Linked DNA regions of Homo sapiens. The protein of the gene in region 2 interacts with the protein of the main gene of each other region in a pairwise test. Each region holds a gene or a part of one and is shown on either strand. Other genes may lie near its edges.

Evidence for each region.
Region 1: the proteins of TEDC2 (region 2) and FEZ1 interact in a two-hybrid assay, tested with the Homo sapiens proteins (one study listed by BioGRID).
Region 3: the proteins of TEDC2 (region 2) and FEZ2 interact in a two-hybrid assay, tested with the Homo sapiens proteins (one study listed by BioGRID).
Region 4: the proteins of TEDC2 (region 2) and MIS18A interact in binary tests that used the Homo sapiens proteins (3 or more experiments, as listed by UniProt).

What each region holds. Positions count from the first base shown.
Region 1 is NC_000011.10:125,493,258-125,500,409, forward strand, and holds the start of FEZ1 (fasciculation and elongation protein zeta-1), read right to left. Parts: upstream 3,009-7,152; 5' UTR 2,864-3,008; exon of another isoform or gene 2,579-2,863; intron 2,359-2,578; exon of another isoform or gene 1,957-2,358; intron 1-1,956. UniProt on the Homo sapiens protein: May be involved in axonal outgrowth as component of the network of molecules that regulate cellular morphology and axon guidance machinery.
Region 2 is NC_000016.10:2,455,935-2,463,130, forward strand, and holds the start of TEDC2 (tubulin epsilon and delta complex protein 2), read left to right. Parts: upstream 1-4,174; 5' UTR 4,175-4,210; coding exon 4,211-4,236; intron 4,237-4,348; coding exon 4,349-4,447; intron 4,448-4,688; coding exon 4,689-4,759; intron 4,760-4,881; coding exon 4,882-5,290; intron 5,291-5,812; coding exon 5,813-5,866; intron 5,867-6,214; coding exon 6,215-6,305; intron 6,306-6,480; coding exon 6,481-6,592; intron 6,593-6,696; coding exon 6,697-6,798; intron 6,799-7,196. Other genes in the region: CCNF (cyclin-F), read left to right, coding at 611-1,086. UniProt on the Homo sapiens protein: Acts as a positive regulator of ciliary hedgehog signaling. Required for centriole stability.
Region 3 is NC_000002.12:36,588,152-36,595,176, forward strand, and holds part of FEZ2 (fasciculation and elongation protein zeta-2), read right to left. Parts: intron 2,861-7,025; coding exon 2,752-2,860; intron 1-2,751. UniProt on the Homo sapiens protein: Involved in axonal outgrowth and fasciculation.
Region 4 is NC_000021.9:32,269,050-32,276,074, forward strand, and holds part of MIS18A (protein Mis18-alpha), read right to left. Parts: intron 5,848-7,025; coding exon 5,781-5,847; intron 1,481-5,780; coding exon 1,358-1,480; intron 755-1,357; coding exon 658-754; intron 69-657; coding exon 1-68. UniProt on the Homo sapiens protein: Required for recruitment of CENPA to centromeres and normal chromosome segregation during mitosis.

The DNA.
Region 1 (7,152 bases), on a different chromosome or scaffold from region 2:
CAAGAGGCAGAGGTTGCAGTGAGCCGAGATCATGCCATTGCACTCCAGCCTGGGCAACAAGAGCGAAACTCCATCTCAAGAAAGAAAGAAAGAAAGAAAGAGAGAAAAGAAAGAAAGAAAGAAAGAAAGAAAGAAAGAAAGAAAGAAAGAAAGAAAGAAAGAAAGAAGGAAAGAAGGAAAGAAGGAAAGAAGGAAAGAAGGAAAGAAGGAAAGAAGGAAAGAAGGAAAGAAGGAAAGAAAGAAAGAAAGAGAGAAAGAAAGAAAGAAAGAAAGAAAGAAAGAAAGAAAGAAAGAAAGGTGATGTGGGAGTGCTTCAAGTAAAAGAAAAATTATCCCTGCCATGATATTCTCTGTGCAATGCTTCAATATGCTTATCAAACAAGAGAACTATTGCTGAAAGAATTTTAGCATCTTTTTTACTAAGGCTTCTTTTTTCAATTTATTTGTTCAAAGGTTCCTGGATCGTGGGTTCCATTTTACAGAGATATGAAAGCCAATCCGATAGTGTTGCAGGTATTTACACTGCCTTTAAATTTGTACTTTTCTCTGGGAATGACAGGGGAGAAGCAGATGGTGACACCAGTGGGGTTTCTGATTTGAAATGACACAGTCTATATGATTAACCAGCAACAAGAGGCCAATCCAACCAGAATCTAGGACTAAGACTGAGTTTTGAGTGTTGGCAACAGGAAGAGTGTGCTGAAAGCACTCTGCCCAGGCAGAGTGTAGAGAAAATGGATTCATCTAGAAAATTATAAAAGACGAAATGAATATCACAGCTCTAGGGTTCAGACACATGCTCATTTGAAACAGTCCATAATATAGACTGATTGTTTTTTGTCAACTCATTATCCAAGAGCCAAGAAGTGCTGCATGAATGACCATCTGGAGATGAAGTTAAAGTGAAAGCCAGTGCTGGGAAACTAGTCACTCAACACCCAAACTGAATCCAGCATTTGTGGAAAGACCTCAGGCTGTGGCACAGATGAGAGTCAGGCGTTCTGACTGGCCCCACTATAGCCTCCAGGAGGGCTCTGTGGATTGGGGTTGGCAGCACTTCCTTAGATGGTGACCCTGCCTTCCTTCCTTTAGCCCACTTTCTTTCGCCCTCCTCTCTTCACGGAGTGCTTTCATCCTTCAACTAAAATGTCTGAAACAACCTTATTTTCCATCCTGGCAAGCTTGCACCATCCTCATTCATAGCTCATCTGGGAGCCTTCTTTTCCTTAAAGTAGGATTAATACAAGCGATAGCTTATTCCCTTTAGACTTCCAAGATCAAAAATAAATACGTACATACATGAAAATGGCAGAAAGAAGGAACCATGGGAGGGTCGCCTTTTCTTTTTCTCTTTACCACAGAACAGAGCGCAGGACTATAGTCTGATTGTCCTACAATCTATTCCATTTATTTTCACTCCCAATAGATGGTGTAATTTGGAAAAGAAAAGACACTCACGGGGCTTAACAGAGACCCAGTAGGAAACGCATAAACGTCTCCCTGCAGCACAATGATGCACTCGCTGCATCTCGGGGCTGCGGTACAAATGCTCAGTCCCTGCTTTGCTGAGCTGACCCGAGTGGAGCGGAGCGGTGGAGATTTCACCACGCTAACCCCGCTGGGCCTCGGCACCTCCACACAAGCCCCATTCCATCTCCTTCTTCCCATCACTTGGTCCATAGATCAACTGATTCCGTGCCTCGTCCCCCATATCCGTCCCTAAAACCTACCCTGCACTGATCCACCTTCAGATTTCCCACTGCTCCTCCGCAGAACCCACCCAGTGTGCATGTTTGTGCACATTTTGACAGAAAAAGTATTTCGTTGCATATGGATCAGCAACCCCTTCGCGGTTCTGCTTGCTCCCCTCCCCCTCCTCCCGCTGCTCCATTCACCTCCATCTCAGATCCCCCTCCTCCCCCCAGTCCGGTGGGGTAAAGAAAGCCTCCTCCAGGCAGCACAATGGCTGGCACTCTGAGGAAGCCGGACTCATCCCGTGCAGGCCGCATACACACTCCACTGCCCTTCCGGCCAAACAAGCCCGGACACGGGAGAGGGATGAGAGTCGGGGATGCCTAGCGGCGAGGAGAGAAGGGATAGGCAAAAGGGAAGAAGAGCGGGCTGTGATACCTCCTCGACGCCGTCAAACACTGCTCCCCGCATTCCAGAGCCCGGGGCCCACCCGACGGCAGCGCGCCCCGCCACCGCGCAGCCGCCCCGGTCCCTTCTCCCGCCCGTCTGTAGTAAAACAATCGCTCTCCCGGCGTCTGCGGCCGCTGCCAGCGGTTCTGACACTGCAGGAATGCGCGGTCTGGGGAAGGCTCCGCACTCTGGGGAGGGGCACGAGCGGGGTCGGGGGTAAGTTTTTAGGGACAAAGATGATCTTGGGGCGTTTACGGTGACTGGACCAGATAACGGTCCCGGGACGAGGTACCGACCCACTGCCCCAGCGCGATCGGGCGGCGTTCCCTTCTTCCCCCAGCCCCCATACCTCGCCGCCCTGCCTTCACACGCGCGCACACACGCGGGCACACACACGCGGACACACACACACACACACACACACACACACACACACCAGGCCTGGCTGGAGGGCCGATGCTGAGATGATACTGGAAGTGCCCATCATCCCACATCTCCAGGGCCTGGCGCGGCGTCCCAGCTGCGCTCCCTGAAGGGCTGGGCAGGAAGGCGACGGCCTCCCGTTGTTCCTTTCTAATCCCAGAATGGGACCAGGTGAGGGGAGCTGCGGCGACCCCAGACCGTCCTGTCAGAGAATCCCGGGGCCTCCTTACCACCCCCACCAGACCCCACCCCCAGCAGTGAGTCGGGTCCTAACTAAAGTCAACCCCCGCGACGGCACCTGTGCGGGTCCTGGCGGAGGGAGGCGGATCCCGGGGCTCAGCCGGACACCCCCATCCACGGGCCGCGGGAGCGGCCGGAGCGCAGCGCAGCGCAGCGGAGAGCCAGCCAGCCAGCCAGCCAGCGAGCGCTCCCCGCGCAGCTCCGGCGGCGCCCGGCTCCGCTCCCGCCTCCACCCCACCCCTTCCCCGCGCTCGTGCCCGGGCTCCGGGGGCGCGCCCGCGCTCGGGCACCCACCCAACTGGCACGCGCGGGAGCTGGACGTCATCCCCTCGTTAACATTCATAGCCTTCCTCCGAGCACGTGGGCTTGCCTTTATTAATATTTATGCATTTCTGTTTCTCTCCTCTTTAACATTGGCCTTTCTGCTTCCCTCATGAATATTCAGAAACTCCAAGATGAAAGCGTGCAATAACTACCAATATGGATACCTCGCAAAGCCTGACACTAGTTTCTGGATAAAATGCAGGCGATGGCTGCTGGCGGATGCCGGCAGACACACTCAAAGACCCTTTTGGACTTTCCGAGTTTCCCATTCTCCTCTACTGGAGGCTGAGGCGGGCAGGCCCAGCGACGTCTCCCAGCTCCAACTGGGTTCGGACCTCAAGCCAAAAATGAGGAGGCCGGCAGGAGAGCTTTTCTCGCCCAAAGATGCTGGGTGGGAGCTGGATCCAGCTGAAAAATCTGAGTGAGAAGGTTTCAGGCCCAGGAGGACTTGAGATAATACAGGAAAATTCAAGAGGCTGAAATGAGAAGGGTCCCTGGAGTCTTGTGAAAAATTATTAATTTATCTTGTCTACTGTGCATAGGCCTGTGCTTATAGAAGTTGTCAATAAAAAATCTAATAATTCACGAATACACACAACTAAGAGCACAAGAACTGTAATTATCGAAGGAAGGCACTGGAAAAAGCATGTCGGCTTGGAGAACCCCAAGTACTTTTGTCTGATGGCAAAGTACCTCTGGGCTGAACTGAGGACTTCAACTGGAAGGGGCAGGGAGCGTCTCTTTTGCTCGTTTATGCATTCATTCCACAGACATTTCAACCATGAGAAGGATGGAAACAGGAATAATGTCCCAATGAGATGAGAAGAAGCGTTGGCCTATTTGCCTTTGTGGGAGCAATAGACAGAGGATGTCTTCCTGTAAGAAATCATAAGGCCAGGCACGGTGGCTCACACCTATAATCCCAACATGTTGGAAAGCTGAGGCAGGAGGATCACTTGAGGCCAGGAGTTCAAGACCAGCCTAGGCAACATAGTGAGACCCCATCTCTATAAAAAAAAAAAAATTAGCCAGGCATGGTGGGCCCATCCTGGTAGCCCATCCTGGTAGCCCCAGCTACACTGGAGGATGAGGTGGGAGGATCGCTTGAGCCCAAGAGGTTGAAGCTGCACTCCAGCCTGGGCGACAGCAAGACCTTGTCTCAAAAGTAAATAAATAAATAAATAAATCACAAAGAGTAGCTGGTTAAAAGATCCCTAGATCTCCTTTCTTGGGATCATGCCCAGTTTTGTGACCTTGGGTTAGTTAACTTCCCTGTGGCTCATTTCCTCATCTGTAAAATGAAGAAAATAATAGTGCCCGCCGGGCGCGGTGGCTCACGCCTGTAATCCCAGCACTTTGGGAGGCCGAGGCGGGCGGATCACGAGGTCAGGAGATCGAGACCATCCTGGCTAACACGGTGAAACCCCATCTCCACCAAAAATACAAAAAATCAGCTGTGCGTGGTGGCGGGCGCCTGTAGTCCCAATTACTCGGGAGGCTGAGAATGGCGTGCACCCAGGAGGCGGAGCTTGGAGTGAGCCGAGATTGCGCCACTGCACTCCAGCCTGGGTGACAGAGCGAGACTCCGACTCAAAAAAAAAAAAAAGAAAGAAAATAATAGTGCCCCACTCTATTGTGGCCTGTTGTGGGATTAAAGGAGTGAATATGAGTAAAGTACTTCCAGGTTTATTAGAAGGCACTATATGTATGTATGTGTGTATATATATACACACACACATATATATGTCATATATATGTCTCATATAGATGTCCCATATATACGTCTCATATAGATGTCCCATATATATGTCTCATATAGATGTCCCATATATGTCTCATATAGATGTCCCACATATATGTCTCATATAGATGTCCCACATATATGTCTCATATAGATGTCCCACATGTATGTCTCATATAGATGTCCCACATGTATGTCTCATATAGATGTCCCACATGTATGTCTCATATAGATGTCCCACATGTATGTCTCATATAGATGTCCCACATGTATGTCTCATATAGATGTCCCACATGTATGTCTCATATAGATGTCCCACATGTATGTCTCATATAGATGTCCCATATATATGTCTCATATAGATGTCCTATATATGTGTGTGTGTATATATATATGTGTGTGTGTATATATATGTGTGTGTGTGTATATATATATGTGTATATATATGTATATATATATATGTCTTGGCTAATTTGAGGCCATCTTTTGTCTAGATCTTCAGAGCATGGGACAAACAGATTTGAGAGAAGCTTGTGAAGTACTGAAAGTGATAAAGAACTTGGTCTTCAGCTGGTGACCTTGTTAGTTATCCTCTCTGTACCTCAGTTTTCTCATCTGTAAAATGGAGATGCCAATATCTGCTGTTGGATGCCAATATCTACTACAAGGTTGTTGTTATGCATATTAAGTAATATAATGCATGCAAAATGCTTAGCACAGTGCCTGGCATATAATAAGAAACCAATTAGTGGATTCTGTGGTTATTTTTGTGAGGCTATGAAGAAACTGAAAGCTGAGGACAAGTAGCCTAGGCTAGGTACCTAGGATGAGAAATCCCTGAACATGAGCCCAGTTATTCTTCCAGCAAACACTTATTTTATTGTAGTAAGATATATATAACATAAAAATTACTATTTTAACCATTTTTAAGTGTACAATTCACTGGTATTAAACACATTCACATTGCTGTGTAACCACCACCACTATTCATCTACAGAAATTTTGTTATCCAAACAGAAACTCTGTATCCATTAAACACTAACTCCCCAGTACTCCCTTCCCCAGCCCCTGGTAACCACTATTCTAATTTTGTCTCTAAGAATTTGACTATTCTAAGTACCTCATGTAAGTGTAATTATACAATATTTGTTTTTTGTATCTGACTTATTTCACTTAGCACAATGTTTTCAAGGTTAATCTATGTTGCAACAATGTCAGAATTTCTTTTCTTTTTAAGGTAAATAATATTCCATGGTATGTATATACTACATTTTGTTTATCTATTCATCTGCCCATGGACATTTGGATTGTTTCCACCTTTTGGCTATTGTGAATAATGCTACTAATCTGTCATGGGATTAGAGTGAGAAAGAAAGAATAAAAAAATAATGCTGCTGTCAACATCGGTGTACAAATTCCAGCAAGCATTGGTTGCATTCCATGACCTAGGCTAGAAGCTGGGGAGCTAAAAATGAAGGCATGCTTTCAAGAGGTTCCATGTTTAGTATGTTGATTTCCAAACTCTGCTGCTTAGAACCTGCAGTGGATTGAATGGTATTTTCCTAAAATTTGTGTCTACTCAGAACCTCAGAATGTGACTTTTACAGATGTAATCAGTTATGATGAGGTCATACTAGATTCGGGTAGGCCCTAAATCCAATGACTGGTGTCCTTATAAGAAGAGGAGAGGAGGCTGGGCATGGTGGCTCACACCTGTAATCCTAGCACTTTGGGAGGTGAGTAGATCAACTGTGGTCAGGAGTTCGAGACCAGCCTGGACAACATGGCGAAACCCCATCTCTACTAAAAATTAAAAAAAAAAAAAAATTAGCAGGGTGTGGTGTCACATACCTATAATCCCAGCTACCTGGGAGGCTGAGGAAGGAGAATCGCTAGAACCGGGGAGGCGCAGGTTGCAGTGAGCTGAGATCATGCCACTGTACTCCAGCCCAGGTGACAAAGCAAGACTATGTCAAAAACAAAAACAAAAAATACAAGAGGAGAGCATGCATAGGAAAGGAGGCAGAGATTGGAGTAATTCAGGTACAAGCCAAATGACACCAAGGATTGCCAGGAACCACCCAAAGCTAGAATGAGGCAAGAAAAGATTCTTCCCCAGGACCTTCAGTAGGTAGCATGGCCCTGCTGACAGCTTGATTTTGGACTTCCAGCCTCTAGAACCATGAAACCATAAATTTCTATTTAAAGATCATTTGTCGTGGCAGGCCTAGGAAACTAGTACAAATTTTGGTAGTAGAAAGTGGGATGCTGCTGTAACAAAT
Region 2 (7,196 bases):
GCTGAGGCAGGAGGATCACTTCAGGCTAGAAGTTCAAGACCAGCCTGGGTGACACAGCAAGACAAAAAATTTAAAAATTAGCTGGGCATCGTGGCGTGCGCCTGTGGTCCCAGCTACTCAGGAGGCTGAGGTGGGAGGATCTCTTGAGCACAGGAGGTGGGAGCTGCAGTGAGCCGTGATCATGCCACTGCACTGTAGCCTGGGCGTTCTTTCTAGAATGTTGTTTGAGGTGTGCCCACGTGGTATACGTGACACTCCTCACTGCCCTGCTGGGATCACTGCCCTGTGCAAACCCCAGGCAGACTGCGGGGTCCTTGCCAGAAGCCCAGTTAGTGTGAGTCCTGTCAGTTTCCCGGTTGCTTGCTTCTGCGTCCACTTGGCTTGAGCTAGATGGCCAACTTGTCATCTCCACATTTGTTGGAGTCATGGCGGGCAGCTGTCCAACTTGGAAGAGGCATGTCACCCACGCTTCTCACCACAGGAGGGTAACACAGGGGACCGTAGCAAGGTAGAAGATTCTTGACCTGGACTTCAGGGTCCTGACCTGGCAGGGGGTCTCCCCTGATGCTTGGGTGTGACATGACTTCCCTCCCCACCAACCTTCCTGCAGTGACAGCTCCCAGCGGCATCCTCGATGTCACCGTGGTCTACCTGAACCCAGAACAGCATTGCTGCCAGGAATCCAGTGATGAGGAGGCTTGTCCAGAGGACAAGGGACCCCAGGACCCACAGGCACTGGCGCTGGACACCCAGATCCCTGCAACCCCTGGACCCAAACCCCTGGTCCGCACCAGCCGGGAGCCAGGGAAGGACGTCACGACCTCAGGGTACTCCTCCGTCAGCACCGCAAGTCCCACAAGCTCCGTGGACGGTGGCTTGGGGGCCCTGCCCCAACCTACCTCAGTGCTGTCCCTGGACAGTGACTCGCACACACAGCCCTGCCACCATCAGGCCAGGAAGTCATGTTTACAGTGTCGTCCCCCAAGTCCCCCGGAGAGCAGTGTTCCCCAGCAACAGGTGAAGCGGATAAACCTATGCATACACAGTGAGGAGGAGGACATGAACCTGGGCCTTGTGAGGCTGTAAGTGTGTCAGCACATTTGCCGCAGTGGATGTGTACTGAGGGGGCTGGAGGCGAAGGGTGGGAGCATAGCATAGGAACGCTGCATAGACCATGGAGGCCTTTGCGCAGAGAGCAGAGAGGATGACTTGCGGCCACCAAGTTTCTGTCTCCGCGGGAGTCCCGTGCAAGCCATCAGAATGTTGAAATGAGGGTGAAGAGCTCAGATCCCTCTCTTTGGAAAGTTTAGCCTGGAAGCAGTTGGCCACACTGTGTGGAGGGCACCTCTCTGTCCCTTCCGTGTCTCACTGTCTCTGGAAGCTTCAGCCCATGTGTGTCCTGGTGTTCCCAGCCCCACCAGAGCCCCGTGCCGGGAGCTGACAGCTTTCACGCTTAAGGCACGTGTGACCTGGGTAGTCAGACACCACTTGAGCCCCTGCCCACATCTGCTGGTTTGGGGCTTCAGTGGGGAGCTGACAGCTGTGAGCACACCACTGTCCCCTCATCCACCTCGGCCTGCATGGGGCACCCACTTCCTTCTGGGTGGGGCTTCCATGGTAAGGGGGCCTGCGTCCCTGCACACTGCGAGGACTGCCTTGGCCACAGGCCCACTCCCTACGACACGTGACTCGTTTTAGAGCTCTGTCCCAGAGGCGTTCGTATGTGACCCACAGATGGCGTCAATGTGAACACCTCTCTTTGTGCTGAATTTCTGGGCCATTCTTTTCCTGTCTTATTTCTAAATTTCCTTCTTCCAAGATGAAAACAAAAGAAAAACTTAAAACAGAAGGTATTAAAAAAACAAGAGATTCCCACCATTATTTAGGTTCACCTGCAAAACAAAAATCTTACTCCAGCCCCTCAATGCCATCCTGACACACTTTATGCAAAAAGAATTTTCCCAGATAGGCTAGCCAGAAAAAACTTCAAGTCCTCTGTAACATCTGAGGTGACCAAGAGGCAGAAGAGCAGAGCAGTCGGGGGCCGTGTCCTGGCTGATCCCAACTGCAGCTCTGCTGTGGGGGCCCGTGGGAGGGAGGCAGACCCCTGGGCTTTCCTGCTGGCCACGGAGACTCTGCTCCTGCATGGAAAGGGAGCCTGGGAGCCAGCAGCCCACGCCTGGGGAGCCTGCCTGGGGCCATGTGACCATGGCCTCTCCCTGGGAACGGGCTGACCACAACACACCCTGCTGCCATCCACTTCTGTTTACTCTGCAAATGTAAGAAAGAACCACTTGGCCAGAAGTGTCCCCCAGATGCTTTTTTTTTTTTTTTTTTGGAGACAGTTTTGCTCTTGTCTCCCCGGCTGGAGTGCAGTGGCATGATCTCAACTCTCAACTCACTGTAACCTCCGCCTCCCGGATACTCCTGCCTCAGCCTCCTGGGTAGCTGGGATTACAAGCACCCAACCACGCCCAGCTAATTTTTGTATTTTCGGTAGAGACGGGATTTCACCATGTTGGCCAGGCTAGTCTCGAACTCATGACCTCAAGTGATCCGCCCACTTCGGTCTCCCAAAGTGCTGGGATTACAGGCATGAGCCACGGCGCCTGGCCCCCAAATGCTCTTGAACCGGAAACCCAGGGATGGGAGATGCTCACTGAGCTGCTGCTTTTATGTGTGCTGGTGCTATGTGTGTTCATGTCCGCGGCAGCTGTCTTTTTGCTACTATAAGGGAATTCTGGCCACCCTGGGTGGGGTGTGGTCGGGGTGAGAACCCAAGCGTTGGAACTGTAGACCCGTCCTGTCGACTGTGTGCCCCTGGGCATGTGTGAGCCTCAGTTTCCTCATCTGTAAGGGGGGCAATGATACCTACCTCACAGGGGTGTTGTGAGGATTAAATGTGAGGAGGATAGTGGCAGATGAGTGATGGACGTCCTTCACTGCCTCGGCCCCTTGTCCAGGGGCTCTTAATCCCAACTCTGCATGGAGTCAGTTCTCTGCTTTCTCCCAGCTTGCACCTGAAGGAGGAAACCACTCCAGGGGGACCTGGCCCCGCCTGCCTGTGGTGGGTGGGTTCCTGCATCACCCACCTGCTGACTGAGCATTTCCCTGCCTCCTCCTTCACAGAGAATCTCCAGGGAGGCAGGGCCACCGTCACCCTCCCCCACCGCTGATGGAGGGGCCCACCCGGAGCGCTGGGCCAGAGCTGCCTGGGTCCCAACCTCCCTGACAACTCCCTTTGTGCCCTCCTTCCCCTCTGCGATGGCACCTTCCCATTAACGACTATGGAATGGACTCACCTGTCCCATCTTTAAACAGCAACCCCAGGCTCTGTTTTTCTTTCAGCTACCGCCTGGGATTTCTTGCCCCCTAATTGTTTATTCTTGTTAACACCAACTACATGGGGCCCTGCTGCCTTCCTCACTTCCTCCCTCAGGTGTCCCCCGCATCACCGAAGGCCCTGTACCCCCGCCCCCCTGCTGTGCTGTGTACACCGCCGAGGCCTCAGCAGCACTTGGCCTGTGACCCACTCCCTCCCGTGACAGCCTCCTGTTGCCTCTGTGACACTGTCCTACTGCTCCTCCACCTCCCTGGCCATTGCGTGGGCCCCGTGATCTGTCCCTACCCGTCCCCTGCCCCACCAGGGGCCACCTCGCCTGGCCCACTGCTCCAAGGTCTGAGCTTCCTCCCCTCTGCCCAGTGCTATCACGTCACATGTCCAAAAGTGAACACTTTCTCCTCCTTCATCCCCGCCCCTGACACGCGGAATCCTCACCTCCAGCAACCCCGTCCTGTCCCTGTGCTCGGTGGCCCAGGCGTCAGCAAGACGGCTGGTCCCTGCGTTAAGAGCACTTTCAATAAGGACAGATGGAGCCTCTCGTATAACCTTCACCGGCCCCCTGCAAGAGAAGCGCGATAATGGCGCCCCCATCTACCCAGTTACCCAAACCAAAATCCCGGCGTCGCCCGCAGTCACCTCCCTGGCGGCCTCGGGGGCCCAGCTCCGAGCCGGAGTCCCCGTCAGACCTGGGAGGCAGGAGTGGGCGGGGCTTGAGGCTTGCCCGCAAGGAGGGAGAGAAAGCTTCGGGGGCGGCCCCTGAGCCCCGGTTCAGGATTGGGCAGCCCGGCCGGGAAGGGGCGGCCTTCCCTCCCGGAAGGGGCGTGGCTCTTCAGAGGCGGCAAATTGCAAGGAGACGCCGCCGCCTTCATGCTGCCGGCGGGCTGCTCGCGCCGGTGAGGCCTGCGCGGCAGGAGGGGGTGGGAGGATGCGGGCGGGCCGGTAGCCAGGCGCGGGGCCCGAGGCCCGACGCTGGCCGAGGTGCTGAGCCGCCGGTGCGTCCCCCAGGCTGGTGGCCGAGCTGCAGGGCGCCCTGGACGCCTGCGCACAGCGACAATTGCAATTGGAGCAGAGCCTGCGCGTTTGCCGTCGGCTGCTGCATGCCTGGTACGCGGACCCCGGACCCACTGGCCAGACCTCCCTCGGGCCCTCAGAGTCCCGCCCCGAGCGCCCAGGGCTGGGAGACCGGGCGCAGCCGCCCACTTCGGAGCTGTGGGTTGTCAGTGCCACCCTCCTTACCCTGCAGGCTCTGAGCTGGGGGCCTGCCGCGGGGCCCGGCGGCCCCCTCGGGTCTGTTTGGGCTGGGCCCTGCCTCCTGGCCGTGCGACGGCTGCCCGTGTCTTTGCAGGGAACCAACTGGGACCCGGGCTTTGAAGCCACCTCCAGGGCCAGAAACTAATGGAGAGGACCCCCTTCCAGGTAAACCTCCACCACCCGCCTTCTCCAGGTGCTGCTCTGGCCTGTCTGCTGGCGTGCAGTTGTGAGGAACCCTCCTGGGGGACAGTGGGGAGAGATCCCTGCATAATTCTTGGCTTTCACAGCATGCACACCCAGTCCACAAGACCTCAAAGAGTTGGAGTTTCTGACCCAGGCACTGGAGAAGGCTGTACGAGTTCGAAGAGGCATCACTAAGGCCGGAGAGAGAGACAAGGCCCCCAGCCTGAAATCTAGGTCCATTGTCACCTCTTCTGGCACGACAGCCTCCGCCCCACCGCATTCCCCAGGCCAAGCTGGTGGCCATGCTTCAGACACGAGACCCACCAAGGGCCTCCGCCAGACCACGGTGCCTGCCAAGGGCCACCCTGAGCGCCGGCTGCTGTCAGTGGGGGATGGGACCCGTGTTGGGATGGGAGCCCGAACCCCCAGGCCTGGGGCGGGCCTCAGGGACCAGCAAATGGCCCCATCCGCTGCTCCTCAGGCCCCAGAAGCCTTCACACTCAAGGAGAAGGGGTAGGTTTCCCGGACCCTCACTGGAGGGACTTCTGTCTCTGCCTCCTCAGACCCTGGCTAGCAAGGAGCCTGGGATTTGGGGTGACAGGGAAGGCAGGGCATCGAGCCCTGTGGCATACCCCTGAGGCTCATGCTCAGAAGCTGGCAGAATGAAGCAGCTGTGTGGTGGTGTCCAGGTTGGCACCATCAGGTCAGGGAAGTACTGGAGCCTGTCCTCCTCTCTTCTCTGTGGCTGTCCCCTTATTTGCCCAGGCCAGAGGCTCCAGATGGGCTCTGGAGGGCGTGGGATCTGCTCACAGGGCCCCGCTCACAGGGCCCCCTCTTCTCTCTAATGGGGCAGCACTGGACGATGCTTCTCCTATGGCCACTCTGGAAGCCCTATCCAAGGGGGCTCATCCTTGGTGGGGTCGGGTGTGGGAGAGGGGCAAGAAGCCTCATCCCTGATTGGGCTCTGAGCAGGAAGTGGGACTTGTAGACCCCAGAGCAAGGCGATGCTCCTCTGAACACGGGCTTCTCCGACAGGCACCTGCTGCGGCTGCCTGCGGCATTCAGGAAAGCAGCTTCCCAGAACTCGAGGTGAGGCTGAGGTCTTTGGCTGGACGGGGGTAGGGGAGAACCGGGAGGCATCACCAGCTCGGGGACAGGTTCGAGATACTTTCCAGTGGGTCTCTTTGTCCTCTTTGCTGAGTGGGATCACTGTCGATGTTAAAAATCTGCCAGCCGGTCAGCTTTGTCCCCTTGTCCTAGTCAGTGTCCTCTTGGTTCCCTGCGGCCTCTGGAGGCCCCTCCTGGCATTCAGCAGAGCCAGACGCCCAGCCTGGGGTCCCCACCCTGGCCCTTGCCTACCTCCCAAGGCCCAGCTTACTGGCTGGAATAACCGTGTCCCTCTGTGGTTCCTCTGTGCACCCCACGTGTGCACCCCAGCCTGTGGGCCCAGCTCAGTTCCACACAGACCAGTGATTCCACGGATGCCGCCGCTGCCAAAACCCAGTTCCTCCAGAACATGCAGACAGCTGTATCCTTGCTGGGCTTGTGGGAGCCCTGGGGGCCTCTAGCTCTGAACCTGGCAGGTTTGCAGAGCAGCCCCAGGAGGGGCTGGCGTGGGATGGCCAGGGCCACTCCCCAGGCCCCGTTCTTGGTGGGAGCAGAGGGGCTTTGGCTGCAGGGAAGTTTTCCTGACCCATATCCAGTCAGGCGGGCCCCAGCCCAGGCTCAGTGCTGTGGAGGTGGAGGCGGAGGCGGGGCGCCTGCGGAAGGCCTGCTCGCTGCTGAGACTGCGCATGAGGGAGGAGCTCTCGGCAGGTCAGTGGGTCCTGGGTCTGTATCAGGAGGAGTGTGGAGGGCCAGTGCAGGGAGGGTTTCCAGACTGCCACGGGCCCCACCTGCTCTCCCTGACTCTTCTGCAGCCCCCATGGACTGGATGCAGGAGTACCGCTGCCTGCTCACGCTGGAGGGGCTGCAGGCCATGGTGGGCCAGTGTCTGCACAGGCTGCAGGAGCTGCGTGCAGGTGAGACCCCGCCCCCACCCTGCCACCTGCACTGAGGTCTGGGCCGGGGACAGGGTGCTTTAGCCAGGCTTGTCTGCGCCTCAGGGAAGGGTGAGCAGCCCAGGGACCAGATGCAAGTTGGTGGGCCCCTCCACCCCTCCCACGCCACTCCCCAGTGTGCTGGGTCCTCACCAGTCGTCCTATGGGAGCAGTCAGCCTTCCTCTCCTCCTCAGGGCAGCTCTCCCACCTCGCTGCTCCCCGCACACAGAACCTCATTGCTCTGAGCAGTTGCTTATTCACCCAGTTGTTGAAAAACTAGCATGTGAGGGCCGGGCGCGGTGGCTCACGCCTGTAATCCCAGCGCTTTGGGAGGCCAAGGCGGGTGGATCATGAGGTCAGGAGATCAAGACCATCCTGG
Region 3 (7,025 bases), on a different chromosome or scaffold from region 2:
CCAAGTATCTGGGATTACAGGCATGCGCCACCACGCCTGGCTAATTTTGTATTTTTAGTAGAGACGGGGTTTCACCGTGTTGGTAAGGCTGGTCTCAAACTCCTGACCTTAGGTGATCCATCCACCTCAGCCTCCCAAAGTGCTGGGATTACAGGCATGAGCCACCGCGCCCAGCCAGGTAAGGCTTTTTAATGTCAGTACTAGCATTAAACTCTACGTCATTACTAATCACTGCCTTGGCCATATCATTACCGTGGCATTGAAAATAACATTCAAAAGGCAGCAAAAGGGAGCAACCTCCCAAGATGCAATCTAAGAACAATACAAGACATACAGCAGTCCCTCGGTATCCAAGGGAAATTTGTTCCAGGACACCCCAATAGCAAAATCTGCAGATGCTCAAGTCCCTTATATAAAGTGGGGTAGTATTTGCATATAACCTGTGCACATCCCCCTATAAGCTTTAAATTATATGTAAATTACTTATAATACCTAATACAAGGTAAATGGTTTATAGTTATATTGTATATAACTATACAATATTTATATTATAAAGTTATATTGTATCGGTTTTCGGTTTTTTATTTTCATTATTTTCAATTGTTGTGTTGTTATTTTATTGTGGGGTTTTTTTTTCAAGTTTTTTAATCCACAGTTGGCTAAAGCAGCAGATGTGAAACCAGAGAATATGGTGGGCCCGCTGTACATTTAGTCAATGAAATTGGATTAAACTGTCTCACTCACGCTGCTAATGGGCCTGACTTTGAAACTATGAATGGAAACTCTTCTATGCTATTTTTTAATATGTCAAAAAAGTAGTACCCATGGACTGGTTTTGGTGCATTCTGCATTATTTTAAATAACATAGAAAATATTTTTTTAAAACCTTTCTATCACGATCTCTGGCCCTACAGTTTCACTGACAAGGCTATTCACTTATTCACTCAATAAAAAGGTATCTTCAAACTTACTATGTGCCAGGAACAGTATAGTTACTATAAAGACAAATACAAATACCTGCCGGGAAGTCACAATCTAGTGACAGACCCAGAAACATATGATTAACAAGAGAAGGCAGTGGTAATTTTAGAGACAGGGACAAAGTGATCTGGGGACTAGCACCCATGAGACAGCAAGGCTAAACCCCGTGGCACAGATAACAAGTCCTTTCAAAGTTCACAACCCCACAAGTGCCATCAGTTCCCCTAGAGGGGAGTGTGTTTTCCTTCCGTGCAGGAATTTAGGCCATGGCTAAATGACCATCTGTCAGAGATGCTGGAGGTGAGGATTCCCCCCAAGTGAGAGGCTGGATTAAGTGTCCTTTAAAGCCCCTTCCAACTCTAAAATTGTATAATTCCATGAGATCAGCAAAGGCTAAAACAGTAATAGGAAGCTTCAGAGAGGAAGGGAAACTTGAACTAAGCCCAAAATGATAGCCAGGACCTAAGTAAACAAGACAGAGCAAAAGATCCCTCATTTTATTCCTTTTCATTAAATATATGCCAGGTCAGTCTGCAAAGCTTAATGGGATTAATGACTGGCACAGTCAGGAAGATTTCCATAGCTACTGAATACTGGGAAATACAGCCAGAATTCTACATTTTACTAGAAAATAATAACAGTAGGCTTTTCTGATCACATATGTAAGAAAATCCTTTTAACAAAACATTAACAATACTATGTAAAATAGTGACAGGCCTACTGCACTATATTCTCAATAATCACATAATTACACTTAATGAAATATAGAGCACGCAAGAAGATCTGGCATGAGTTTACATTATTATTTGATAAGGAACTTAAACAGCCAGGCCCTGAAACTTAGATAATTTGGATATGTTTCTCATCAGATTTAAAAAAGCTTAACACTGTGATTTTCCATTTCAAGTAATTCTCAACCCTTTTCTGCCTCCCTACCTGTCCCACCACTCGTGCTCACACTTCTTAGTCAAGACATCTTCACTTTACAATACCAGGATGTACACAGGAGACCCCAAGAAAGGTAAGTTAGCCAAGACCGTATTTTAAAAGCCAAGAACTAAAATATCTTTTAAAGGTTCTCCAGTATTCACAGGAATACACAGTCTCCTGACAACATATCATGTCTAGCAGGTCACTACACTCATTAAAAAGTTAACTCCGTGTTGAGATTCCAATACTCTCAGTATATTAAACCAAAGGCTAGCATTTTTACTGAGGGTTTCAGTGCACCAAATTTTACTGAGTGTTTCAGTGCATCATCACTGCCAGGTGCAGTGGCTCACACCTGTAATCCCAGCACTCTGGGAGGTGAATTACCTGAGGTCAGGAGTTCGAGACCAGCCTGGCCAACACAGCGAAACCCTGTCTCTACTGAAAATACAAAAATTAGCCGGGACTGGTGGCTCATGCCTGTAATCCCAGCTACTCGGGAGTTTGAGGTGGGAGAATCGCTTGAACCCAGGAGGCAGAGGTTGTAGTAAGCCACTGTACTCCAGCCTGGGCAACAGAGTGAGACTCCGTCAAAAAAAAAAAAATTGTGATGGAAATTTAGCTACACATAAAAAATGAGTGTGCTGGAGAAGAACTGGAGGAATGTGCCAGCAAGGTGATGGCCCTACAGCCAAGACATCAAGACAGAGCCACCCAAACTGCTATAATTTCAGAAATGAGAGGCAGGTCAGTGAATCTGTGTTAAGCAGAAATGCTACTGTTTTAGTTCTATTATCAGCATCAGTTATTCAAACACTATTGGTTCAATTCCTAACTTACCCCTTTTTCTGAGAGGTTCAGAGTAAGCAAGTGCAAGGTCCTAGTATGCGATGACTTCCAGTCTACAGGCATCACATTCCCATAATTATCTGTCAGGGCATTCCAAATCCTTAAAAAGAAGAAAGCTACAATCAATGAAAATTAACATTCTGTATGTCTTTCTTAAACAAATATTCAGTGAAAGATGAACAGCAAATGTCAAAGGAAACAGAGAAAAACAGACAGCACATTGTTTCTCAGAAAAACATCAACAAAGTAGAGTCTCCTAAACAAAAACGAGGTGAAAAATCACATAACTGGGCTGACAAGAAGTCCTAAGGGAAGGTGAAGCCGTACAGAAAACTGCCAATAGGCAGTAGGCAACACTTCCATTATATTAGGTGCTAGGCACTGTTCTAAGCAATTTACATGTATTAACTCATGTAATCTTCAAAAACAACATTAGAAGGGGGAACCATTATTAACCTCATTTTACAGATGAAGAAACTGAAACACAGGGCGGGGAAGAAATGTTTCCAGGGTCACATGAATAATAAATACAACTGTGCATTACACTTATTTTTCTTCTGTAACTTCAAACAAACAGACCATTTCAAAAAGTGAAAAATCTCTCTCAAACAAAAGGTTTGTTATCCTTTCTGGAGAAAGAATTCGCTCTCAATGTGAGAACAGGATTTAATATCTAATTTGTAATAAAGAAGCTAAGCACTAAGGCAGATACAACAAAAAGGAGAAAGAGAGGGAGTTCACAATAAAACACACCCAGGCTCTATCCAATGCAGTTACCTGACCTTATTACCCAACAGCATTACAGGGAGGCAAGAGGGTCAAATGGTAAGGGCATTTGACTGAGACTAGGGAAACAAACTCTCATCTCCATCCTTCTTCAAATAACGAGTCATTGGCCAGGCCCCTTAACCTCCCTAGGTATCCTCTGCCCTTCTATAAATGAGAGACCTGGACAAGAAGCAGATACTCCTTCCAGCTCCATTACTCTAAGCATTAATTCAAATGAGGTGTATTGAAGAGAGTCCCAAACCACACCAGATAAGAACACCAAACTCAAATTTCACAACCAAAATTCAGGTTTCAATACCAAAGTAATAATCAGCACAATAAAACATGATGTTTTATGAAAAACTAAAGTTCAGAGATACAAGTGACTTGAAATCTAATTGGGATACGTAAAATCAAACACTAAACATACAAGCTACTTACTAGCTAGAGGTATACACAAAGATGTCATGTAGAAAAAAACACCCTAAAATGTTTATTAGGTATCTAATTGTGAATAAGCAATAGGCTTTCTTTCCAAGTGTGTAAGACACTAGGATACAAAAACAATCCTGGCTGGGGCATAAACATAAGAATGAATTTTTTTTTTAAGTTCCGGGGTACATGGGCAGGATGTGCAGGTTTGTTACACAGGCAAACATGTGCCATGGTGATTTGCTGCACCTATCAACCCATCACCTAGGTATTAAGCCCAAGAATGAAAATTTTAAAATACAGACATAACATAGTTAACAAATAGGGATTGGGCGCTAAAAAGAAGCAATAGGACTGCAACGGCTAAAAGCATAACATCCCAAATGATGTTTGGCTTTAAAATGCACGTTAGGGATGGGCCTGGTGGCTCATGCCTGTAATCCCAGCATTTTGGGAAGCCAAAGTGGGAGGATTGCTTGAAGCCAGGAGTTCAAGACCAGCCTGGGCAACAAAAGGGAGCCCCACATCTCTACAAAAAAAAAAAAAAAAAAAAAATTGGCCAGGCCTGTGGCATGTGCCGCAGTCCCAGCTACTTTTGGAGGGTAAGGCAGGAGGACTGCTTAAGCCCAGGAGCTCAAGGCTGTAGTGAGCTATGATGGCACCACTGTACTCCAGCCTGGGAGACAGAGCAAGACCCTGTCTCTAAAAATATATAAATAAAATAAAAAATAAAATTAGCCTTAATAAAAATGTGAACCCAAAAATCTCTAGAGAACTAACTCATCTACCCAGCAAAGCTCCCATATGCACAGTCCATTCCTATTCTCCTCTCTGTTGGAATATCTCCTCTAATGCCAGTGAAGTAGAATTAGAGGCAATGTCTGTGGACTACTAAATTTGCTGGGTTTCTGTGGACTACTAAACTTGCTGGGTTTCTGGCTCATACCTTCCTGGATAAGAAATTTTCAAACACTGAATGACTGTATAGTCCATTTTCATGCAGCTGATAAAGACATACCCAAGACTGGGACGAAAAAGAGGTTTAATTGGACTTACAGTTCCACATGGCTGAGGAGGCCTCAGAATCATGGTGGGAGACAAAAGGCACTTCTTACATGGTGGCAGCAAGAGAAAAGGAGGAAGATGCAAAAGCAGAAACCCCTGATAAACTCATGGACAGCGGCCCTCTTCTCACAACCCCACTAGGCAGTGCCCCAGTAGGGACTCTGTGTGGGGGCTCCAACCCCACATTTCCCTTCCACACTGCCCTAGCAGAGGTTCTCCATGAGGGCCCTGCCCCTGCAACAAACTTTTGCCTGGGCATCCAGGCATTTCCATACATCTTCTGAATCTAGAAGGAGGTTCCCAAACCTCAATTCTTGACTTCTGTGCACCTGTGGGCTCAACACCACATGGAAGCTGCCAAGGCTTGGGGCTTGCACCCTCTGAAGCCACAGCCTGAGCTGTACTCTCGCCCCTTTCAGCCACAGCTGGAGCAGCTGGTACACAGGGCACCAAGTCCCTAGGCCGCATACAGCAGGCAGACCCTAGGCCCAGCTCACGAAACCACTTGTTCCTTTTTGGGCCTCCAGGCCTGTGATGGGAGGAGCTGCCATGAAGGTCTCTGACATGGCCTGGAGACATTTTCCCCATGGTCGTGGGGATTAACATTAGGGTCCTTGCTACTTACGCAAATTTCTGCAGCTAGCTTGAATTTCTCCCCAGAAAATGGGTTTTTTTTTTTTCTATCGCATAGTCAGGCTGCAAATTTTCCAAACTTTTATGCTCTGCTTCCCTTATAAAACTGAATACGTTTAATAGCACCCAAGTTACCTCCTGAATGCTTTACTGCTTAGAAATTTTTTCTGCCAGATACCCTAACTCATCTCCCTCAAGTTCAAAGTTCCACAAATCTCTAGGGCAGGGGCAAAATGCCACCAGTTCTCTTTGCCAAAACATAACAAGGGTCATCTTTGCTCCAGTTCCCAACAACTTCCTCATCTCCATCTGAGACCACCTCAGCCTGGATTTTATTGTCCATATTGCTGTCAGCATTTTGGGAAAGCCATTCAACAAGTCTCTAGGAAGTTCCAAACTTTCCCACATTTTCCTGTCTTCTGAGCCCTTCAAACTATTCCAATCTCTACCTGTTCCCCAGTTCCAAAGTCATTTCCACATTTTCAGGTATCTTTTCAGCAACGCCCCACTCTACTGGTACTAACTTACTATATTAGGTTATTTTCATGCAGCTGATAAAGACATACCCGAGACTGGGAAGAAAACGAGGTTTAATTGGACTTACAGTTCCACATGGCTGGGGAGGCCTCAGAATCATGGCAGGAGGCAAAAGGCACTTCTTACATGGCGGCAGCAAGGGAAAATGAGGAAGGAGCAAAAGCGGAAACCCCTGATAAGCCCATCAGATCTTGTAAGACTTATTCACTATCATGAGAATAGCATAGGAAAGACCAGCCCCCATGATTCAATTACCTCCCCCTGGATCCCTCCCACAACACGTGGGAATTCTGGGAGATACAATTCAAGTTGAGATTTGGGTGGGGACACAGCCAAACCGTATCACTGACTATAGACCTAATCCTGGCAGGAATTTAAGCAGGATACACTAGCAGGTGAAGACAGTCCAGAATTTGAGGAGTTTGCTTTGTCTGCTGATTTGCTCCTTCTTAAACAAGGCTATAAGAAAAAGGCAAATGGGATGGAATATTTCACTTAGAAGTGCCTGTCAGTGAGTTTGATCTTCCAAGAAAATGAAAGCCAACTAACAGTCTCCACCAAGGTCAAAACAATGGTAGTTGGAAGGACACAGAGGCAACTCTAGTGAAAGATTTCTAGAATTCTGCAGTCAAGACATATGAACTGCCTTCATCTTTATCACCAAGTATTACAACCAGTCGTAAACAACGGTCAGGACAGCTCTTTTGCAAGGAGGTCAAAGTCCTGCCAACATCGAATCCTGCAGAATACTCTTATAAGTAAAACCTCAGTACGTAAATACAATCCATATTTAACCAAAACAAAAGCTGAGGCTCAGAGAAGTTAAATGA
Region 4 (7,025 bases), on a different chromosome or scaffold from region 2:
GTGGCAAAGGACAATTTGGATTCGGCCTCCCACAGCTTCATTTGTAATGCTTTCAAGACATCTTCCATCTATTGAATTTAAAAAATAAAAAAATAAAGAAACACACATATAATTAAAAATTATACATGGTTAAATATAATTAAGATATACACTTAATGCAATTTTGGATATGTCATACATTACAAGGTAGATATTCAGTGTTTAACAAAACTATTTAGAGGCATAAATTTTTTAAAAATAAAGCATAATTCTATCAACAGTAGTTCTCAACCTATAATCTACATCTCTTTTATACAATCATCACCATCTCACCTATCTGGCAATGAGAAAATGTTAACATCCAACAACAAGGCTATTTATACCACAAGAATTGAATCAAACAAAATACTGATTTGAATCAAAGATGTATTTCTAGCTTTGCAGTGTTTTAATATATAGTTTTGATTTTGACATGACATGTCTTCCTCATTATTTTGTTGATTAAGCTTTAGCTTTTGAGTTCCCCAAAAATCAACTTTACTAACAACTGAAATGAAATAAGCACACTCTTCCTGCAATCAACACAGATGACGTTATGAGAATTATCGTTTGTGGGGGAGCACTTCTTCACTGACAAACTGTTCATACAAAGATATAAAATGTACAGAATAAAATTACCTGTGTTAGAGACTTTTCTATTTCAACTCTGCTTTCAAGATTAAAAAGCTCTTTATCTTCTGACACAATTTGCTTTTCAGAGGACCCTAAAACATAACTGAAGTACGGTACAAGGTTAAAATACAAGCTGGGTGTGGTGGCATGCACTTGTTCCCAGCTATTCAGGAGGCTGAGACAGAAGGATCATCTGAGGCTAGGAGTTTGAAACCAGCCTGGGCAACACAAGACCCCGGGCAATATGCCTGTAGTCTTAGCTACTTGGGAGGCTGAGGCAGGAGGATCGCTGGAGCCCAGGAGTTCAAGGATGCAGAAAGCTATGACCACAGCACTGCACTCCAGCCTGGGCGACAGAGTGAGACCCCATATCTTAAAAAAATAAGTTTTAAAATAAATAAAAATAAAAAGCTGGGGGCAGGGGGCAATATCCTACTGAACTACTTTCAATTTTTAAAAACAACTGAATATACTTTTATTCCAAAAATTTTCTCACAGTGTTTTCTCCTACAATTTAGAGTGTCTGACTTTTCCAATACCAAATAAAGAAGGAGGTCAAAGCAAAAAAAAAAAAAATTACTGGCTTGTTAGAAATCATTACTTGAAAATATATTTAACCAAACAGTATTGATTTAGTTCTGACAATTCCGTGCCTTAACTTTCTGAAACACCAGTTGTGAGGTAAACATTTATATATCAAACTTACCTTTCAATGGCTTCAACACTGAGGCAAAACAAGTCTCTCTTGTAATCAAGATTCTTGGGCGTGCATCTGTACACGTAGCCAAGATTGAGTGAGCACCCCGCGCAGCACAAAGTCTCAAGGACGCTGCAATAAAGAAATGTCTTGCTTTAGGAAACGAAGCAGCAACTCATTATAATAAAAATCTCACTGTTAAAATCCATAAACACCTCAGTTTCTCAAGTATGCTATTCTGACCACACTAGGTCATACATAAAGGATAGGAAAAAATGATAGTAAGATATTTACAATAAAAATGTAAAGACAGCCACGATGCCTTAAGTATCAAATGACAAGGGACATACAAAAAAGTGACAAGAGAGAATATTGAGGTGGTGTTTTTCTAGAATATAAATTCCTCCATCTGGTACTAATGTAACAAAGTGGAGAATAAATATTTTAGCCTCGCCAGCCATCTGGTGTCTGTCACTACTCACCTCTGCCATTGTAAAACGGAAGCACCTATAGACAATACTAACTGAATAACCTGTGTTCCAATAAACTCGTATTCACAAATGGGTGCCCGCCCCATGGGCCATAGTTTACCAAACTCTGCTCTAGTGGAAGGTAATACTGCTTGGCTTAATAAAAAAAAAGTCTCTAAAGTTAGATGACAACCCATGTAATTGTTTCTTCATTCTAGTTACCTCTCAACTCAGGTTCCACACACTTGAATATACCCTCCCCCAAAGCCTATTCATGTCTCCTTAAAACCTGGCTTAGAATCCAGTGTCTCCCAAACGCCTTGTTGAACTGACCCATCCAAATTTACCATTCTATAAATATACTAAAATTACCATTCCAACACATAGCAAAATGATAACTAGAGATTTAAATCTAGTAGTGATCACAGTAGTAAAACATACACCACAAACGATTTTTATTACAAAAGTATTCTAACTCCTACTCAGTATGTGAAACACTTGTAATCACTAAATATCCATTCCTGCTATCAAGCAAAAGGGAGCTACCCAAGACTCACAGATTATAGACTACATCATTGTTTACTTACAGATACTGAGACACTGTTAATTATTACAGCAACATATGGAACAAAGAACAAAATGGATCACCATCTGATTAAGTCATGAATTCTCACTGATGATGTGATTAGCTGGATAGTATGCCACTGATTACATATTAAGTGTCTACGGGCTTTTATAAGCTTCTATATTTTAGTTTTATAGTAGAAATAGTCTCGCTATGTTGCCCAGGCTGGTCTCGAACTCCTAGCCTCAAGCAATCCTCCACCTTGGCCTCCCAAATGTGAGATTACTGGCAGGAGTCACCATACCCAGCCAGCTTGTTTAAATGTTTATATGAGAAATAAAAAGCATGTCGGTAAATCCCACTTAAATTACTCACAGTGAACAGGTAAACCTCCATGCTATATATCAAACCTCATTACCATTATAAGACCGCCTCACACCATTACCAAGACTGCAAACTAATATCTAATGTCATCAGCCAAGAAAGGACACTCAGAGAAACCAGAGGCTTGAACTCCCCAAATCCACTGAGCCATGAATAAGACTGTTTTATCCCGAGTTATCAAAATCAACCTAAACACCACCAAAAATAGGAACAAACCCATTCACACTTCTAGAATCATCTTGTGGAGCAATGAAGAGATGGTAGCTAGTATTAAGGCAGCAACTTTCCGCTTTCACAGTTGGCAAGAATTTGGCCAGCATTCACCCCTTTCATTGAACAGTAACATTGAGAAGGCAGTGCCAATAATCGTAAGGTGATGTTAGACAAGGAATAATCCGATTGTTAAGATCCTCAACAAAGGACAAAGTCAGACTTAACAGAGAAAACAGCACTGGCACCTTCACAACATATTTCTAAAGCCCACAGTGCTCTTGCTGACCATCAGCAGAAAGGCTCAGGCAGGTATCAAAAAATTCACAAGCATCCCAAAGCAACACGGGAGTGTGCAGCACACAACCCTAGTGAAGTCCAAGACAACTGAAGGCAGTCTAATCGATGGGTTTAGGTGATACAAACAGTATTAATAACTCTGGATCAAAGAGAGTGAATTCTCTATCAATCCTGATTAGAAAAAAGAAGAAAGTCTCGGTTTGGTGCTAGACTGTCTTTGACACTTGTCTCATAGTCGCAAATCTTTTAATAGTAACAGAACAGACCTCAGGCAGAGAACCAGCCAGGCAACAACATCTCAGCTAGAACTAATAACATTTGTTTTCACTGTAATTATCTTCAGAGTTACTTTCTAGTTATGGCAAGTATGTATTTATGATAGTAAAAACAATCCTTTTAAGACAAATTTAAATAAAAATTTTGAGTTGATTTAATTTTAAAAATTTAGTATGTAATAGCACAGTTGGTACCTGGTACACAAATAGGACAAAAATGATGGTGATATCAAAATGGCTAGAGCTAGAGCTAGAAAGTGGAGAAGAAAGAGCACTTCGAAGGCAGTAAGGAAGGGTAACAAGCATCATCCTAGCTCTTACTGCTAATTAGTCCTGTGACCTTAGCAAAGTTCTAGCCTCCCTGGGCCTAACTTTCTTCAACTACCAAATGAGAAATGATCTGAGGTGGGTTTTCCAAATTTTTATGGCCTGCATGCCGGCACCACAATTTCTGTCACATCCACAAACCATCTGTACTATTACTAATTTATCTTAAATGGAGAAACTTTTTTTCTTTTTTTTTTTTTTTCACTTTTATGGAAGAGATACATAGGGCAAAGGTTACAGAAGGGGGACACAGAGCTTCCAAGACCTTTCTAGGTACACCACCCTCCCGGCATCTCATATTCACCAATCTGGAAGTTCTCTAAAACCCATGGGTTTTTTGGAGGTTTTATAACACAGGCATGATTAATTACACCATTGCTGATAATCTCTAGCCCCTCTGCCCTCGATGGAGGTAGGAGAAGAGGTTGGGGTAGGGCCAAAACTTCCAACCCTCTAATCATGCCTTGGTCCTTCTGGCCCCCAATCCTGAAGCTACATAGAAGCCCCCCAGCCACAGTCACCTCATTAGGATTAAAAACGACATTATTATCACTCCAGAGATTCCAAGCATCTTAGAAGCTCTTCTGTCAGAACTGGGGACTAAGACCAAACATGGTAACAAAAGATACCCTTATCACCCCATCACTCAAGAAATCGAAAGGGTTTTAGGAGCGACTAAGTATTGAATGTTTCTGTCCCCTACCACATGTATAAGTTGAAATGGTAGCTCCTAATGTGATGGTATTGGGAGGAGGGGTCATCAGGAGGTATTTGGTCATAAGTGCACAGAGTAATTTTTTTTAAATTGAAATATACTTTATTTGATAGGATACTCTAGCATCACTAAAAATGAAAAGCCAGTATTTTTAATACACATTAAAATATACACATAATTAATTTTTGTTTAACTGTGTACCACCTAAAGTTATTTCATACGCAAGTGTAAGATACAGTTTACATTTGCAGCAACAATTATATAGGGCAGCGCTTCCCACTCAGTTTGCTCAGGCGTCACTATGGCACATGGGTGGCAGGTATGGCAAGATATTTGTCCCCTCTACCCTTAAAGTGGCCACACAGGGCTTCAGATTGCTGGAGCTCCTGTGTTGTTTGCTCTTGCCACAAACAGCCTTGTCTGTTTACCCCAATAGGCTGTGTGTGTGACAGCAGCATTTTATGTGTGTGCCATAACATGAGAAAGTTGGGCAGCATTAGCCTAAGGCACCCTTTAACATTGAGATTTTATAATATAGGTATTTCCTTTTCTTCTTTTTTTTTTTTTTTTTTTTTTTTTTTGAGACGGAGTCTTTCTCTGTTGCCCAGGCTGCAGTGCACTGGCGATCTTGGCTCACTGCAACCTCCACCTCCGTAGTTCTAGTGATTCTCCTGTCTCAGCCTCTTGAGTAGGTGGGATTACAGGCCCGCACCACCATGCCCGGCTAATTTGTGTATTTTTAGTGGAGACGGGGTTTTGCCATGTTGGCCAGGCTGGTCTCGAATTCCTGACCCCCCGGTGATCTGCCCACCTTGGCCTCCGAAAGTGCTGGGATTACAGGCGTGAGCCACCGTGCCCGACCTTCTTTTTCTATTTTTATTTTTGATTTTCTTCAGCACCAAGCCCAAAGATCCAAAAAGGGAATGTCAGCATATGCTTTTAGAAATCTAGAAACTCTAACTTTTCAATATCTAAAGGTGACCACAACCACTCAAGAACTAACATATTCCTTTCTAAAACAGGATATAGAAAAAGCAAAAAAAAGAACTGATATATGCGAACGACTGATTTTTTTACTATCATGAAAAGTTTTATCCCAAGTAATCTTACTACTAGTAATGACCTTTTAAAGATTTTTATTAAAGAAAATTCTCTAACATATTCATATAAATACAGTTTTACTCACCAACCATTTTCCTTTTCACGTTTGGATAGCTTCTGTTCCTTATCCACAGAAACATTACAGGAAACACCTAGAAACAGAGAAAGTAACAATAATTTATTAATGTAGTTCGTTATAACATACCTGCAGACAGAGAGTTTCTAATCCAACTTTTTAGAACTCGGAGGACAAAAAATAAGCCCAAAGTCAAACACACAAAAGAGCGGTTTAAAACTAAATGTACTGGGGTCTTCTGGGAAAAGATAGCAGAATAAGAGTTATTTCCAACCAGGCGCAGGGACTCACACCTGTCATCCCAACCCTTTGGGAGGCCAAGGTGAGAGAATGGCTTGGGGCCAGGAGTTCGAGGTCAGCCTGGACAACATAACGAGACTCCATCTCTAAAAAAAAATTTTTAAATAAAAATTTAAGAAAAATTTTAAAAGGTTATTTCCTCCCTTTCCCTGAAAACCACTAACATTAATAGAATGGCTAAAATTAGAGGGGAAAATTCATTCCACAGTAAACTTGGAACAAGTAGAACCTCAAATCACACACTGCAAAGAATTATCTGCCAGATAGTGAAATTGGGTTCCAAACCTAGGAAGATGCAAACAGCCAACACATATATCTCCAGATTTCAAACACAGGGCCCATTTCTCTAAAAGTAACTGAGAGGGTCCTCAGGATCCCAGCCACACATCTTTTACTTGAACAATGACTTGGACAGAGGTCACTGCTGGACTTCAGAGGCAGCAGCAAACATTCCCAAAGAATCCAGCTCTAGGAAACACTAAAGGACAGGGTAGAGGGTGAAGAGAAATGAAGAAGGGACATCTGACCTAAAATGGCCAAAACAGACTCTTGATTTCACGGCCTCCTACAGTCTACCTTAACTCGGTAAACTCCAACTCCATCTACCTGCTTGCTGAAATCAGAAACCAGGGTGTCATCCTTGATTCTTTGTCTCCTCATCCTGCTCCCCTGTATCTACTCCACTGATCCATCCCATCAATTCTACCTCACAAACTTCACTCCAGCCCCCAAACCACCAGCACCACCTCTTGCCTGGACTACTGCCCTGGCTCTTCACTAACCTCCCCACTTCCATACTTGTTCCTCCTTCAATGCTTTCTCCAAAGAAAATGCGGGGTCACATTACTCCCCTGCCTAAGCTAGCATAATAACGTACTCACTAGAACAGATTACTACTCTTTAGAACAGACTACAACGCCTTGCAGTTTCTGATCTCTTCCTTCCTCCCTAAAT